2 separate regions of the Homo sapiens genome follow, and region 1 is linked to region 2. Evidence: fine-mapped QTL for protein levels in blood plasma. A gene starts in region 2. The other region holds a variant in brackets. All regions are shown on one strand. Distances are between the middles of the regions.

The links. PIP is the chance, under the fine-mapping model, that this variant and not a neighbour inherited with it causes the effect. Protein levels are from the aptamer-based SomaScan assay of Sun 2018.
Region 1: its variant is fine-mapped to the plasma level of the NTN1 protein (Sun 2018, PIP 0.95).

The regions. Positions count from the first base shown.
Region 1 is chr17:9,086,120-9,094,119 of GRCh38, reverse strand. All of the region lies in intron 2 of NTN1 (netrin 1), which reads right to left. Among named protein-coding and RNA genes, the nearest start is that of NTN1, 69 kb to the right of the region's middle. RefSeq lists enhancers at 5,463-5,962, 5,963-6,464. The variant A/G (reference allele first, on the strand shown) is at 4,304.
Region 2 is chr17:9,016,532-9,025,379 of GRCh38, reverse strand. NTN1 (netrin 1) reads right to left here and starts at 3,870. Exons shown (of 7, transcript NM_004822.3): 1 at 3,795-3,870; 2 at 1,989-3,069. The coding sequence starts at 3,006. RefSeq lists silencers at 3,619-4,408, 4,459-4,508 and enhancers at 3,929-4,472, 8,274-8,323.

The DNA.
Region 1 (8,000 bases), 69 kb before region 2:
TTGTAGAAACTGAATGTTTGTATGCATTAAAAGGTAAAACAGAAGTGTATATAACAAAATGTAAATAGTATGTATACTAGAAGTTTCTCTGGACAATGGGATAATGAGTGATTTTTTTCTTTTAACTTGTCCACATTTTCTTTTTTGAGACAGGGTCTCGCTCTGTCACCCAGGCTGGAGTGCAGTGCCACAATCTCGTCTCACTGCAACCTCTGCCTCCCAAGTTCAAGTGATTCTCCTGCCTCAGCCTCCCAAGTAGCTGGGACTACAGGCGCCCGCCACCACGCCCAGCTAATTTTTATATTTTTAGAAGAGACAGGGTTTCACCATGTTGGCCAGGCTGGTGTCAAACTCCTGACCTCAAGTGATCCACCTGCCTCGGCTTCCCAAAGTGCTGGGATTACAGGCGTGAGCCACCGCGCCCAGCCAACTTGTCCACATTTTCTAAATGTTTTAAAATTTACCAGGTACAATGGCTGACTCCTGTAATCCTACACTTTGAGAGGCTGCGGCAGGAGGACCACTTGAGCCCAGGAGTTCATCAGCCTAGGCAACATAGCAAGATACCATCTCTACCAAAATTAAGAAAATTCGCCAAGTGTGGAGGCTCTTGTCTGTGGTCTCAACTACTCAGGAGACTGAGGTGGATGGATCACTTGAGTCTGGTAGGTCAAAACTACAGTGAACTGTGATCGTGCCACTGCACTCCAGCCTGGGCAACAGAGTGAGACCTTGTCTCTAAAATAAATAAATAAATAAAATTTAGAATAAGAAAAATATTTCTAATAAGTTATTTGTTACTTAAGCTTACTCAACAAAGCTTGGGTAATACCTATGTTCATAGCAGTATTATTCACAATAGCAAATAGCTGGAAGCAATCCAAATGTCCATGGATGGATGAATGGATACAGAAAATGCGGTTTATCAGGCCGGTATGGTGGCTCACGCCTGTAATCGCAACACTTTGGGAGGCCGAGACGGGCAGATCACTTGAGGCCAGGAGTTCAAGACCGGCCTGGCCAACATGGCAAAACCCCATCTCTACTAAAAACACAAAAATTGGCTGGGCGCAGTGGCTCACGCCTGTAATCTCAGCACTTTGGGAGGCCGAGGCGGGCGGATCACAAGGGCAGGAGATCGAGACCATCCTGGCTAACGCAGTGAAACCCCGTCTCTACTAAAAATACAAAAAATTAGCCGGGCGTGGTGGTGGGCACCCGTAGTCCCAGCTACTCAGGAGGCTGAGGCAGGAGAATGGCGTGAACCTGGGAGGCGGAGCTTGCAGTGAGCTGAGATTGCACCATTGCACTCCAGCCTGGGCGACAGAGCGAGACTCTGTCTCAAAAAAAAAATACAAAAATTAGCCAAACATAGTGGTGTGCGCCTGTAATCCCAGCTATGGGTGGCTGAGGCACGAGAATCACTTGAACCCAGGACACAAAGGTTGCAATGAGCTGACATCGCACCACTGCACTCCAGCCTGGGCCACAGAGTGATACCCTGTCTCAAAAAAAATTTTGACCTATCCAGGCTGGGCGCCATGGCTCACACCTGTAATCCCAACATTTTGGGAGGCCAAAGCTGGTGGATCACTGGATGCCAGGAGCTTGAGACCAGCCTGGCCAACATCATGAAACCCTGTCTCTACTAAAAAAATACAAAAATTACCCAGGCATGGTGGTTTGCGCCTATAATACCAGCTACTCGGGAGGCTGAGACATGAGAATCGCTTGAATCTGGGAGGGAGAGGTTGCAGATGGAGTGAGACCCCGTCTCAAAAAAAAAAAAAAAAAAAAAAAGAGAAGAAAAGAAAATGTGGCCTCTCCATACAATGGAGTATTACTCAGTCTTAAAAAGGAAGGAGATTCTGACACATTTACACAACTTGGGTGAACCATGGTGACATGATACTAAATGAAATAAGCCAGTCGCCAGGTGTGGTGGCTCACACCTGTAATCTCAGCACTTTGGGAGGCCGAGGCAGGAGGATCACTTGAGGTCGGGAGTTTGAGACCAGCCTGGCCAACATGGTGAAACCCCGTCTCTACTAAAAATACAAAAATTAGCCGGACGTGGTGGTGCATGCCTGTAATCCAGGTACTCAGGAGGCTGAGGCAGGAGAATCGCTTGAACCCGGGAGTCACCGAAGGACAACTACTGTATGATTCCACTGATATGAGGTAGCTAGAGTAGTCAGATTCCTAGAGACAAAGTAGATTAGAGGTTTCCAGAGTCTGGGGCAGGAAGAAGTTGTTTCAGGGGTATAGAGTTTCAATTTAGGAAGTTGAAAAAGTTCTGGAGACGGATGGTGATGATGGTGAATGTACTTCATGCCACTGAACTGTACACATAAAAGTGGCTAAACGGGCCGGACACGGTGGCTCACGCTTGTAATCCCAGCACTCTGGGAGGCCGAGGCAGGCAGATCACCTGAGGTCGGGAGTTCGAGACCAGCCTGACCAACATGGAGAAACCCCGTCTCTACTAAAAATACAAAATCAGCCGGGCGTGGTGGCACATGCCTGTAATCCCAGCTACTCAGGAGGCAGAGGCAGGAGAATCACTCGAACCCGTGAGGCAAATGTTGCAGTGAGCCGAGATCGTGCCATTGCACTCCAGCCTGGGCAATAAGAGAGAAACTCCATCTCAAAAAAAAAAAAAAAAGGCGGGGGGTTAAACGTAGGATCCAGTTTAACTTTGGTCAGGCACTGTGGCTTGAGCCTGTAGTTCCAGCTACTGGGGAGGCTGAAGCAGAAGGATCCCTTGAACCTAGGAGTTTTGAGGCTGCAGTGAGCTATGATCCTACCACTACACTCCAGTCTGGGGGAGAGGGCGAGACCCTGTCTCTAAAACATAGAGAAAAATGGTTTAGATGGTACATTTTATGTTATGTATATTTTACCACAATTAAATAATAATAAAAAGTTTGACACATAAAATGTTTCCATTTTTAAAGTTTGGGGGAGGAAAAGTCACTTAAGGGAAACAGCTCATTCTCTGATAATGCCAAATAAATGAGGTGTTATTGTAGGCAGTGAGACATAAGCAGCTCTCCAGAAACCTTGCACTTGGCACTGCCGAGTCCTCCGCCTGGCAGCCAGTGCCCTCCTCAGCTGGCTGTTTTTCAATCCATCTCCCTTTGGTCGGCTTCACACGCCCTGGGTTTCCCTGCTGGGCCCAGGCTGAGGGTCCCGGTGGAGGGGAGGACATGGAAAGGAGGAGCGGGGCCGCCCGGCTCTTGCCCACCCAGCTCCAGGCTTGCCTTAGATGGGCACCCACCCTCAGAGTGGCCAAGCCTCCTCAAGGCCCTGCCAGCCTCCCTGCCCCCTTCTCTTGGCTCCCAGTCCATAGGAGCATTTGACTTTCTAATTCTTCCCTTCTCACAACAAAAAGCTAAATGTTCCCCAGGCACTTGGCCTGGTTTCTGTACCCAAGCAGAGAAATGGCCAGAGAAGACAAGCAGCGGGAAGCCAGCCTTAGCAAGGTCTCCTGAGTGGCTGCCTCCTGCACTCTCAGCCTTTATAAACCGGCATCTGTATCCCCCTCTTTCTGCTCCTAAATGACCAGAAACATCCATGACTTTCTTGCTTAGTGAGTCACAGAGAGTCCTTACCTGCTTTGGTAAGTAAGAAAGATGAGGAGTTAGGCCAGGCGCGGTGGCTCACACCTGTAATCCCAGCACTCTGGGAGGCCGAGGCAGGCGGATCATGAGGTCAAGAGATCGAGACTGTTCTGGCCAACATGGTGAAACCCCATTTCTACTAAAAATACAAAAATTAGCCAGGCATGGTGGTGCATGCCTGTAGTCCCAGCTACTTGGGAGGCTGAGGCAAGACAATCGCTTGAATCCAGGAGGCAGAGGTTGCAGTGAGCTGAGATCATGCCACTGCACTCCAGCCTGGTGACAGAGTGAGACTCCATCTCAAAAAAAAAAAGAAAAAGAAAAAAAAAAAGATGAGTTTGGTAGCCCGGCTCCTACCAAAAGATGATCAATGCCATAAGTTGGGAGGAGACAGGCGTCAACACCATTCCCCACTCACATACCCACAGCCCGTCCTCCAGCCTCAGCCTTTCCCACCATGTCCTCAAATGCCCATCTCTCCCTTTGGCCTCAAAAGGATAGACAGGCTGTGGGCTTCAGGACTTCTGGGGCATAGAAGGGAGCAGTGATAATTTTGCTTAGTAACTACCCTACTGTGTCCAGATAGCTTGTTGGTGTTTAAAAAAAAAAGTTTGTTTGGCCACTCTAACAAGTCCCCGCCAGAAACTGCAGGAGGTCGGTAGCAGGAGCCAGGTTGTAAA[A/G]GAGAGATGAAACCCCCAACTGGAAAAAGATGATCACAGGCAAGCGGCTGCGGCTGCGAACGAAAAGCTTTGTCTCCAGTGCCGTGGTGTTTGGGATGAGCAGAGGTAGAAGGGCCCTGAGAGTCCGAAAGCACCCATCACGTTCAAGGTGGTTTTTGCAGGCAGGGGAAGCACACAGCAGGTGTTCTCAGAAGGGACAATGAACATTTAGGTTCCACCCAGCAGTGAAAAACCCACCAGGGGTAGAGAACAGGGAACATCTGAGACAGTCTTCTGGCAAAACTTGTGCGTTATCAACAAGAAATTGTCACCTAGGACATTGCTCTAATGTGTTTAACAAGGTATAAAAAGTAGAAATTGGAGAATAGCCAAAACATATGTCCTTAATTTTTTTTTTTTTTTTAGATGGAATCTTGCTCTGCCGCCCAGGCTAGAGTACAGTGGCACAATCTCGGCTCACTGCAACCTCCGCCTCCCGGGTTCAAGCGATTCTCCTGTCTCAGCCTCCCGAGTAGCTGGGACTACAAGTGCCCGCCACCACACCTGGCTAACTTTTTTGTATTTTTAGTAGAGACGGGGTTTCACCATGGTGGTCAGTCTGGTCTCGAACTCCTGAACTCGGGTGATCCACCAGTCTCGGCCTCCCAAAGTGCTGGGATTACAGGCGTGAGCCACCGCGCCTGGCACCCTTAACTTAATAATAAAGCTAGAGCACAAATGAGGCTCCTCATACCTGGTCTTCTCAGCTCTCCACAACACAGGAGACTCTGTACCCTAAGCTGGGGGTCCTGCCTCCACAACAGTCACCAGCACTCCGATGGCGGACACCCAGGATCCAGGCATGAGGCTGAGGAGAAATTAATCAGTAAACCCAACCGTTTAAATAGTTCAGACATATCACGCTTTGCAGGGTGAACAGGTGCGAGGGTTTCGTGATGGCTGGCCACAAGGAACCCGGAGAGAGGTTGTTTCTCCGTATTTGGAATCGTTCAGACTCTTGATACTGGAAGGAGAACAACAGATTGAACCCTGAGGTCCTCCATGCATGCTTCCAGCCAGCTCGGAAATGGTTACTGTGGCTCAGTCAAGCTGCCAGCCCTGTCTGAAAACCCAAAACCTGCAAAGAAGATAATTGAAGCGGAAAAATCCTCCATCTGTGGCATGTGAACGTGTTCCAGGCTTCCGGGTCTGCCCTGGGGTCTCAGTCCTCAAATGAACAACCCACCCAGGAGCGGGTGGAGGTGGGACTCAGAGCCCATCCACCCATCCGTCTGTGGCAACTATTTGGTGTGTGTCATTGGGGTGCTAGGAGCTCCAGAGAACATAGAGCGGCTTGCTTTGGAGGGACCTCAGAGGACACCTAAGGCCAATCCCTTGTTTCATAAGAAGGAGTCTGAAGCCCAGAGAGGGGAAAGGACTGGCCCAACCCTACCCAGTGAGCTGGTAATAAAGCCACACCCAGAACCCAGAACTCCTGATCCCCACTTACTAGGGATCCTCAAAATCTTTAAGAGCAGGACAATAAGAAATTCCAAGTCATGGAAGAGGTGGCCAAAAGACCCTTGAAGCCAACTTGCAGATGGACACCCACTGGGCACCCACAGAAGTCCCTCGGCACGGCCGTCGGGAGCTGGTCCCCTGTCTCCCGCCTCCTGCCCCCTGCCTGTCCCCACTGGGTGGCTCGTGCACCAGCAATGCCAGCTTGGTGAGCTGGGGTTCTGGCCTTCTCCTTCCAGCACAGCAGTATGCGTCTCAGCTCTGGATGAGGCAGCCTCGTTCCTGCCTCTGGGGAGGAAGGACAGCAGTGGGGAGCATGGGACAAAGTGGCTCCATTCAGCCTCCTGGTCGAATTGGGGTTTCTACATCTGCTCTTGGGTAGACCACAGCCTCCCTGGGGGCAGGATGCCCCAGGAGCACTCAGTGGAGGACTTAGATCTAACCTCTCCTGTTTTGTATTCTGCAAGGTCACGGCCCTCACACAGGGTCAACTGTTTAGAAAGCACAAGTCTGGCTTTATGTGAAAGCCGTTCGTGAAAGCTACTGGGCAAATCGGCACAGGCCCAGGGTTCCAAACAAAGGATGAGCAGCTGTCTCGAGAAAAGAGAGCTGAGAACTCTCAGCTTGATTCAATCCTCTGGGTAATTGTGGAGAAGAGCACCTGGAGGGAGCTCTGAGGATGTCTAAGGATCCCAGGACTCTGGTATGTGGGAGCAATGAATGCTTCAAACTCCTACACCAAATGATGTCTCCCTGCCTCAGTCTCCCCCTTCTCAGCTCCACTGCCCACTGGGTGACCAGAGTGATCTTCCTACAGCACAAGCCAATCACGGTCCCCTCCCACTTAAAACCTTTCAATACGGTCTTCCTGTTGTCATCAAGACGAAGTCCAAAACTAGAAAACGCCAATCAGGGCTTGCAGGATCAGACCTTGCCCTACACTCAAGCTTCATCTCTCACCTCTTACACTCAGCACTCTGGCCACACAGCCTCTTTGGGTCTCGAATGCCCCCAGCTCTCTGTCTCTCTGTGGCCCTGTGCCTGCATCTCCCTCTCCCCAGAATGCTCCTGGCTCCTTGTCAGACCCCACCCCACCTAGCCACCTCCCACTCATCCTTCTAGGGTGGTTGGCAAACTAAGGTTCCACAACAGGTAGCCTGAACTTGAATCCTGAGTCTAACACTGAGAAACTCACTCTGTGACCTTGGTCAAACTGTGTAACCTTTAGGATCCTCATTTTCTTCACCTCTAAAGTGAGAATAACAACTTGGCTTCATAGGGTCACGGTGGAAATTAAATGAGACAATGTGTGCAAAGAGCTTTGCATGGTGCCAGGCACACAGAAGGTGGTCAAGCATGCTAGCTGCCATGATGCTAGTGGTGGTACTGATGACAACGGTGCTGATGCTGATGGTGATGGTGAAGCTGATGGTGATATTGAGAAGGAGGTGGGAAGTGATGATGATGGTGACAATAATGGTGATGATGACAGCAACGATGATGGTGATGATGGTGATGGTGCAGGTGGTGATGGTAATGAGGACAGTGAAGATGACAGGACAGTCATGATGACAGCATGATGATGGCAATGATGGTAAAGGAGATAGTGATATTGATGACAGTGAGCATGATGATGATGACATCAATGGTGATGATGGTGATCATGAAGGTAGGTGGTCACAGTGATGATCTGTTTGGTGATAATTTCATTTCCTCCAGGAAGCGTTCCCTGATCCTGCCCCGCAAGTGGCTCTGGTACCTCTTCCTCCTGCTTCCATAGCACCCGTTCTAACCTCTCACAGCCCTGTATTGTAATTGCTGGTGTACATTCCCCTCTAGAGTGAGTGCCTTGAGGTCAGGAACCCTATGGTTCTCTCCACTGTATTTCAATCATTTAGCATTCAAACTAGCATGAGACAGAGGCTTCAGAAATACCCACCGAATGATCTCAATGTTTGTTTGTTTTATTTTTATTTTTAGAGATGAGGGTCTCACTATGTTACCCAAACTGCTGGACTCGAACTCCTGGGCTCAAGTAATCCTCCTGCCTCAGGCTCCCCAGCAGCTGGGACAACAGGCAAGGACCACTGCACTCGGCTTATTTGTTAGTTTTTATTTTTGAAGACACCATAACAACTTATCTCCCTACACCTACTTCCACTTGCTACAATCAACAAGAAAACCCCTCATAAAAAGAATG
Region 2 (8,848 bases):
CAATTTAGCCAATAAAAAAAAAGGTCAATCCAATTTGTGTGCATAGTTAGTGCTTTGGTCAAGAGACAAAATCCCAAACTATAGAGATTATTTCAAGTGCATGACCATCATTATAACAAACGCAGGTTACGTGTCCACATCCAAACTGACGGCAAGACCTGGGGGTGGGTGGTGAATCTGAACAATACCAACGCTAAGGCAAATCTTCAAGCCAGAGAAATTTCACCACCACATCAAGTTTATTCGCCTAAATGTATTCACTTGCATTTGTCCAATTAGACCCTGATGGTGACAAGACAAAGTTATCTTTCATATGCACATACAAACTAAAACTGATAGCAAAACCCTGGGAATCCCTTTAAATGTCAATAAAGGGCTTTTACGCACAAAGGGAAGAAAAGAAAAGAGGAAGGAGGGGGAAAAGAAGAGATGGGAAAAACCAACATTTCCGAGGGAACTGAGCAGATCAAAGGAATTTTATTCTAGAAGACTACTAAGTCGGAGTGTAACTACACTCTCTCTCTCTCTGCGAAATCTTGAAAAGTGTCTTCAGACTGGAAACTAGTTCTGATCCTTAAAAGAAAGGGGACAAACAATTATGTCTGCAAGAGCGGGACACGAGCGTAAAAATGGAGGCCTCCCTTGCAACAGGAGGCGGGAGGCCCGGCGTCTTCAGACCAGGACGCCTGACTGGGCCTCTGCGGCGATCCGGCCCTCCAAGACATGTTTTCCATTCCCTTGCTCAAAACTCTGCATCCACAGTCATGAGGCACAAACTATTCGACAACAACATGACACAATTAATCAGAACCAGACCTCAAAACGTGTGTTTGTGGGGACCAGCAAACTTTGAAATGTGCCTAAGAGGGGCAAAGCAATTGAAGAGCCTCACACTGGCTGTTTGAGATGGGGAGATGGAGAGGAAAAATCTGTACGTTCATAAAGGATGCACACCAAATGGGACATTTACAGACTAAATAATTTTCGCTCAAATAAATGTGGGCTTTGGAGCTTTACTTCCCATACTGAAAAAGTAAGGTGTAGTCTTGCTACCTCCCCTCACCCTTTTTTTCTTTTTATGGGGAGAAACTGATTTCTGAGAGCTTCTGCAGCAGCAAAGTCGTCCAATTCAGAAGCAGAACGTATCCTTTTTTAGCTTCATTTCTGACCCAGCCGTATTCACCCGGTTTTGTCAGATTTCTCTTTCAGGAAATGAAACCCTATTTAAAAAGTGAGAAGCTGGACCCTTAGTTAATTCAAAACTGTTTAATTTCACCAAAGCCTGAAGCTAATAAAAAAAATCTGGTATACTTTTTTAGACCAGAATTGAATTCGTTTAAAATAATTACTGAACGCTCCGTTGTAATCAGCAGATAGTAATTAATTGAAATCACATCATTCTTCTTTTGCTAACACAAACACGCTGTTCAAAAGAGAGACAAAAATAGTTTCAAATCATGAAAAGACAAATGGAGGGCAGGAGTGATACTCGTCGGGTACCGAACTGACCCCAAACTACAAACAGTTCTTTGCCATCTCCCAAGGGATTTGTAGGTGTGGAGTTGGAACTTCCCAGGAACTGGGCCGGGGTCCCCAACCGCGAGCCCAGCTGCAGCCTTGGGAAAGGGGGGTGGGTGCAGGTGAATCCCAGCGTCCAACCCAACGAGGGGGAAGGCAATGAATGTTTGCGTTTGGATCCAGGGTTAGCGGAGACCTATCTGCAAATGTTCTGCCAAACCCCCTCCCGGGAACATTTCTCCTGCTGCTTCTTGGCTTCGCAGAGAGCACTGGGCGCAAATTCGGGCGTCCACCACGAGCGCCACGCGAGCGAGTGGACCTGCTCTGAGCCCTCCCGGGTCCCGGGCATCGGCGAACGCGCCTCCCGCCGTTCCCTCGACCCGCGCTCCTATGAACTCGCCGCTGCGAGGCCCAGCAGCTCCCGCCCGCGGCCCCACCCGCCGCCGGCTCCGCCGCCGCACCCCACTCACCCACGCACTCGTTGGCTTCGCGGGCTGTGGCGCGCTGCCAGGGCCGGTCGTAGTGGAAGGGCTTGCAGCGGTCGCACTCCGGGCCGGCCGTGTTGTGCCTGCAGTCGCACACCAGGCTGTCGTCGCGGTCGCGCACGCAGCGGGCCGCGTGGCCGTTGCACTTGCACCGGCCGCCCACCTGCAGGTCGGACACCGCGTAGAAGTACGAGTCGCGCGCCAGCTCCGAGTCGTCCTCGTTCTCGTCGCCGAACGTGTGCAGGCGGCTGAAGGCCACGCGGATGTCTGTGGCCGTGACCCAGTCCTGCAGCACGGGCGAGTTGTCGAAGTCGTGCGCCGAGGGCCGCCCGTCCAGCGTGCTGAAGGCGATGAGGCCGCCCGAGAGCGGGCGCATGTCGGTGTGCGAGTCGGTGCACACGGCCTCCTGCTCGTTCTGCTTGGTGATGGGCGCGCGGTGCGGCCGGTTGTACATCTTGCGGCACTGCGTGGAGTAGAACTGGAAGGGCACCCACGTGCGCCCGTAGTCCATGGACTTGTAGATGGCCATGGACTCGGGCCGCGGCGAGCAGAACTGCAGGCTCACGTAGGTCACTTCGAACTTCTTGCCGAGGGACAGTGTGAGCGTGACGTTGTGCGGGAACTGCAGGTAGTTCTCGGACTGCCAGCACGTCAGGTTGTGCGGGTTGTTGAGGTCGGTGAGGAAGGCGGGCGGGTGCGCCTTCTTGGGGTCGGACGCGTTGCAGAGGTGGCACGAGCGCAGCCGCTCCTCGCCGCGCTCGCTCACCACGCAGTAGCGCGCCGGGGGCCGGCCGCAGGTGCTGGACACGCGCACGTCCTTGCCGAAGGCCGCATTGACAAAGTCCGGGATGCAGCGGCGCGGGTGGCCGTTCTCGTCCGAGCAGGGATCGGGCTGCGCCGCCTGGCCCGCGAACATGCTGAGCCCGGGCCCGCCGCGCACCGCGCCCACCAGGCACGCCACCGCCGCCAGCGCCGCCAGCGCCTCCCACACTGCGCGCATCATGCTGCGTCCAGCTTGCCCCGGCCCTGCCGCGCCGAGGATCTGTCCGCCTGCCGCAGAAGGCGCCTGCGGAGAGAAGGGAGCTGCGCTCAGCCAGCCCGCCCCGCGCCCTCCAGCTCTCGGCGGGGTGGCGAGCGGAGATGCGGGAGAACGCCCGGCTTCCTGGGCACCCACCCCGCAGCCGACTGCCCGCCTCTCTCCCCCAAAGTCCCGCGGGCGGCGAAGCCGGGGCCCTCCAAGTCCGCACCGCTCGCGCCCCTTCTTCCCCGCCCGGCGGGAGAACGCTCTGCTTCCCCGCCACCGCCGCCCCCACGCCGCCCGAGGGGCATGCCTGAGCCGGTCTCCCCGTCCGCGACCAGCCCCCCTCGCACCCCAAGTTTCGGGCGCAGGAGAGCTGGGGGACCCCGACTCTGCACGGCCCGCGCCCCTTCGTCTCGCAGCCCGGGGTCCCTCTCAGATGCCCCCCGATCGCGTCCCCGCCGGAAAGTCCGCGTTCGGGACTTTACCTCTGGAGGGGGCAAAAGAGAAAGAAAAGTTTGCCTGGCCCCTCCGGGGAGCCCGCGCGCCGGTCGCCGGAGAGCCTCTCGCTCGCTGCTAGCAGGCGCGTCCCGCCTCAGCGCGGGCTTGCCAGCTCCATGCCCGGCGCGGCCGCCGCTGCCCCAGCCCCAGCCCCGGTCCCGGCCCCGCCGCCGCCTCTCTCGCCCGAGTGACTACGCGGCCGCCCGGCTCCCGCCGCTCCCGCCGAGCTCGGAGTGCTGCCCTGCCCGCGCCCGGGGCGCACACACACTCACGCTGGCCGGCGCGCACTCACACACACGCGCGCTCGCCCCCGAAGGCTCCGCCGCCGCCGCCACTCGCGCTGGGAGTGAGGGGCGGAGGGGAGCGCGGGGGCGGGGGGCGGGGCCGCCGGGCGGGGCGCCGGCCAATAACGTCCGCGAGCTGCCGCCAGCTCCGAGCAAAGTTTTCACCCCGGGAAAGAAGAAAGTTAAAGGGAACCGGCCCGGACGCCCGAGAGGGAGAGCACAGGCGGGTGGGAACCCGGGAGCCCGAGAAAGAACAGCAGAGACAAAGAGAAAGCGAGGAGAGCACCCGGGGAAACCCCGGAGAGGGGGCTGGGCCGGGCCAGGCGCGCACCCCGTGGGGGAGGAGGGGCCGCCGGGGACTGTCAGCCTCGCCCGCGCCCCGCGCCGCCCGGAGAGCCTCACGCCCGGGGGAGCGCGCGGGCGGGGGAAGGGGGCCACTTTCTCCCTCCCGGTCCCAGCCAAACACATCTGTGTTTGTTTTCTTTGCTGCGCGGAGGTCGGGCCTTCCTCTAACCCAGCCTGATGGCCCCCGGTGGCACCGCGCACAGGGCTGTGCCCCTGTGGGCACGCAGCCCGGGAGCGTGAGGAAGAGGAGGAGGATGTGACCTCTGCCTGCTCTCCATTTTTGCCCGAAGCCCCCGGGGTCCGGCGAGGAGGGGCTGCTCGCCCGCACTCCCACGGATATCACCGTGCGTGAGCCTGTCTGTCGGGAACGCGGCTTCGTTCTAGCCAAGGGAGCAGTGGTGGGCAGGAGGCTGAAGGGGTAGGAAGCTGGCAGCACCTGGACGCTGGCCACCGCCCCTCCAAGACGGGCCTGCCTGGTCTCAGGCATGGGGACAGCCCAGCCCTCCCCAGATCCCCTGAGGCAGGCGTATCGGTACTTCCTCAACCGCATTTTTAAGGGTGCAAAGCCCTGTAATAGCTCATGGGACCTCCACAGCAGCTTTGCTGTTGTATTAACTCCATTTTGCAGATGAGGAAACTGAGGGTCCCGGGAGCTGAAGAAACTCGCACAAGATCAACCCCCAAGTAAACATCAAAAACAGGAAGAGAAGCCTGGGCTCCTTCCACTGCAGGGCATTCGTCAAATGCATAACCTTGCCGAATGATGGTGTCATGGGGCATCTGCGGGGCCACCCAGCCCCTCCTTGCCTCATTCTCCATCGCCCCAATAAAAAGACTGAGGACAGTGACAGCATCCTTTGGTCATCTTGCAACAGCAGCCAGAGAGCTCTGGGAAAGGAATACACTGGGCCGAGAGTTTGGAACGGAATCTCTGCTCGTTTATTTGTTACTTGTAGATGTGTGGTCCAGTAATAGACCCGGATGAAAAGCCCCAGGTCCTGGTTCCGGCCCAAGGGCTGCCTTGCTGCATTAGCTCCATTAAGTGCCTCAGTTTGTCTTATTGGCATTTTCATAAACCCTGAGAATCTAAGAAGGGGCCTCGGGGCTCGTCTGGCCCAGCTCCGTCTCCTTGGAAGAAGGCCTTCCCCAGCCTCCCAGAGAGACGGCCACCCAAGCCAGCTCTTCCAGGGATGGGAGCTCACCACAGCTCAAGAAAATAAATCCATTCCATTGCAGGACAGCCTGGATTCATCTTCTTACCCCGGGGTAGCAATTTAGCTGTGCCTTCTTGTGCCGTTTACCACACTCTGCACTGTTTATTTATGCCTTACCTCACCTTGTGGCAGAAAGGATTTCAGGTAACTTACAAGGGTACATAAAATATGACACAATAACAAATTAAAAGTGAGGTCAAAGGAAATAAATGAAATGGTTAACCATGGTGACCTGTGAAATCGCAATGGTATACTGAAAGGCAGCATAGCTCTTAGGAGGAAACGCTTCGGAGCCAGGGTACCTGGGTTCAAATTCTGCCTCTGCTGTGTGACTATGGAAAGTCTATGCCTTGGTTTCCTCCATCTGTACAAGGGAGATAATACTTTCTACCCCACTGGGTTGTGAGCATCACGTGAGTTGACACATTTGAATATTATAGCTGATGGGATATAGACATACATATTGCAGGTCTGTAACACATATAAATAGGCTTTCTCATGTATGCAAATGTAAATATGCATAAAACCAGGCACATAGTACATGCATATAGAAATGTTAGCTGTTAGTATGAGGTCGCTTGATCTATACAGAAATTTTAAATCATTTAGAGAACACTTAATTACAGGGAAAGATGTTCATGACATATTATAATATGAAAAAAGCAAATTAAAAACACACAGTATAATGTCATTTTAATTTTTTAAAAAGTATGCATAAAAAGACAACACAGTTAATAGTGGTTATCTCGGAATAATGAGATTACAGGTGATTTTTATTTATCTTTGCTTGTATGCTCTCAGTTTTGCACAGTAAAATATGAAGTAAGAGAACAAAGAAAAGCTAAGAAGGGAGACAAAGTCGAGAGGAGGATACAGGTCCAATGCACCCTGGAGTTCCAACCTCTACACCTCTTCTGAGTGGGCCACAAATTTGTCCCTAAGCTTTCCTGCAGCTAAAATGAGGAGACCATGTTCATTACACAATTCCCAGTGTCCATGAGATAAAAACAGACCTACTGCTCAAGGGAATTACAACTATTCTTGGTACTAAAATCAGATAGGAATTTCTTGTGGGGGCGTGGCCCAGAAAGGGAACACAGTATGGGGTAATGAGCAAACGTCCCTGACAACATCCCCAAAACAGTCACAACAGTGAGCTCGGTTGGACAGTTTCTGTGATCCCCCTGAATGTAAGCTGATGGCATCGCATCAAAACCCAAGTCAGGAAAAGACATTCCAGCAAAGAGGAATGGAAAAGAAGCAAATTGGGGTGCTCAGCTGACTGGGGTACCTTTTGGAGCATCTACAAGACTGGATTGAGAAGTGCTTTCCAAGCCTTCCTCCTGAATGTTGTTTCTGTCCACAGAGCCTTTTTTTTTTTTTTTTTTTTTAAGATGGAGTCTTGCCCTATTGCCCAGGCTGGAGTGCAATGGCGCATTCTCAACCTCTGCCTCCCGGGTTCAAGCGATTCTCCTGCCTCAGCCTCCCAAGTAGCTGGGATTACAGGTACCCACCACCACACCTGGCTAATTTTTTTGTATTTTTAGTAGAGACGGGGTTTCACCATGTTGGCCAGACTGGTCTCAAACTCCTGACCTCAAGTGATCTGCCCGCCTCGGCCTCCCAAAGTGCTGGGATTACAGGAGTGAGCCACCGCGCCCAGCCTATGTCCACAGAGCTTTTGATGGCCCTTGCATGGCAGTAAGTTTGAAATGGCTCTTGGTAGAGTGTGGCTTTTCTACATTGCCAGCTGAGCTTAGGCCAGGGGTCTTCAGGAGAGGATGAGCGGGGTCACCTTCCAGTTTTATTGTGGTCACTTAGGTCTACGCTTATCATCTTTAGTAGTTCCTGGTGAGCAGGACTGTCTTACTCACCTTGTATCCAGGAGGTCTAGAACCTCCTGTAATACGGTGGAACTCCTCTACGTCCATTCCAAACCCCCCTCTCTGTTAAGTCTGCAGGTGGCCCAAACCCTACGCTACACAGCAGCCCAGATCAAGGTTCTCTGCCTCTTCAGATTCTTGAAACCAGTCCTCTATCATCCCTCAGTTTTATCTCTTCTGGGCAAAATGTTCCCAGTTATCTTAATGATTTCCCATAGGACATTGTTTTCTGACCACTCTGCAGCCTCTTCCATCCCTTCTAATTCATCAGTGTCCTTTCCTAACGCAGCCTGTCTGTTGAGGGGACAAATGAAAAAAACAGATGTCCAAGTGTCGTGAGAAGTTCTTAAAGTGGCGGTGATAAATACACACCCGTGAAGGCATGTCAGGCTCTAAGCAGCGGGATCCACAGAGCAAACTGGAGTTCAAAACGCAACAGTGCAGATTTTGGGTGAGAAAGCAAATCACCAGGTGTTTCTGCAAGGAATGCGTTGAGAGGCGGAAACACCGTTCCTGGCACACTGTCTTACCTGTGAAGCCAGACGGATCACCCTAGGAGGGGGAGAATGCGGCAGTTTCAAGAAAACTTTTAAGTAGCCAGAGGAGGAGGAGGAAAACCAGGGGACTCGGGTGTTATAGAAACCAATGGGTAAGAGCGTTGCAAGGAAGGAGGGGTGCTGAGCAGTGTTGAGTCACATGCCTTAAAGGTCAAGATAAGATCTGAAACAAGTCCTTTGGATCAAACTACAAGGAAGTCATTGGTGACCTTGACTAGTGGTTGCAGGGAGTGGTAGGGACAGAAGCCAGGCTGTCTGGGGTTGTGGAGTGAACGGGAGGTGAGAAAGTGGAAATAGCAGGTGTAGACAACTTTCAAGAAAGTGTGAATATAAGTGGCAGGAAAGATAGAGGGTCACAGCAGGAAGGTGACATAGGATTGAGGGAAGGTTGGGATTTTTTATTGTTGTTTGTAAGATAAGGCTATTTGACCATGCCTAAATGTTGATAGGAACTGGAGCCAGCAGGAGGAGAGAGGTGGAAGACAGATAAAACTATGCTTGTAAAACTGGTGGTCAGGTGGTCTCCAAGTGTCTCTTGTTTCAATGAAATAGGAAGTGACACCATCTGCTGAGGATGGGGGAGGAGCTGGGAGCACTGGAGGCTTGAGGTCATTAGAGAGAAGAGGATAATGCTTGCTGGGCAGAATTAAAGGGCCTATTGAAGTTTGTGACTATCTATGAGAAAGAATGGCAGCCAGCAAGGCCATGAGACACACATGCCCTCTTCCCCAGCAGCGCCCAGCAGCCTTTGGATAGACCTAGAGAAAGAGACAGTTGGATTAATCTCAAGTTGAGAGTGTTTTCCAGGAGGTGGGACAGAAGGAAAGGGGAGTGGGTGGCTGATATGATGGGCCAGGGCGACAATGCCAAAGAAAGAAGGAAAACAGGACAGGATGGAAGAGGAAACAGAGAGGCCAGGGGCTAGAGCTGTGCTGTTCAATATGGTAGCCAGTCACCACATGTAGCTACTTCAATTTCAACTTGAATTAATTAAAAATGAGTAACATGGAGAGCTTAGTTGCCTAGTTGCCCCTAATTTGGAC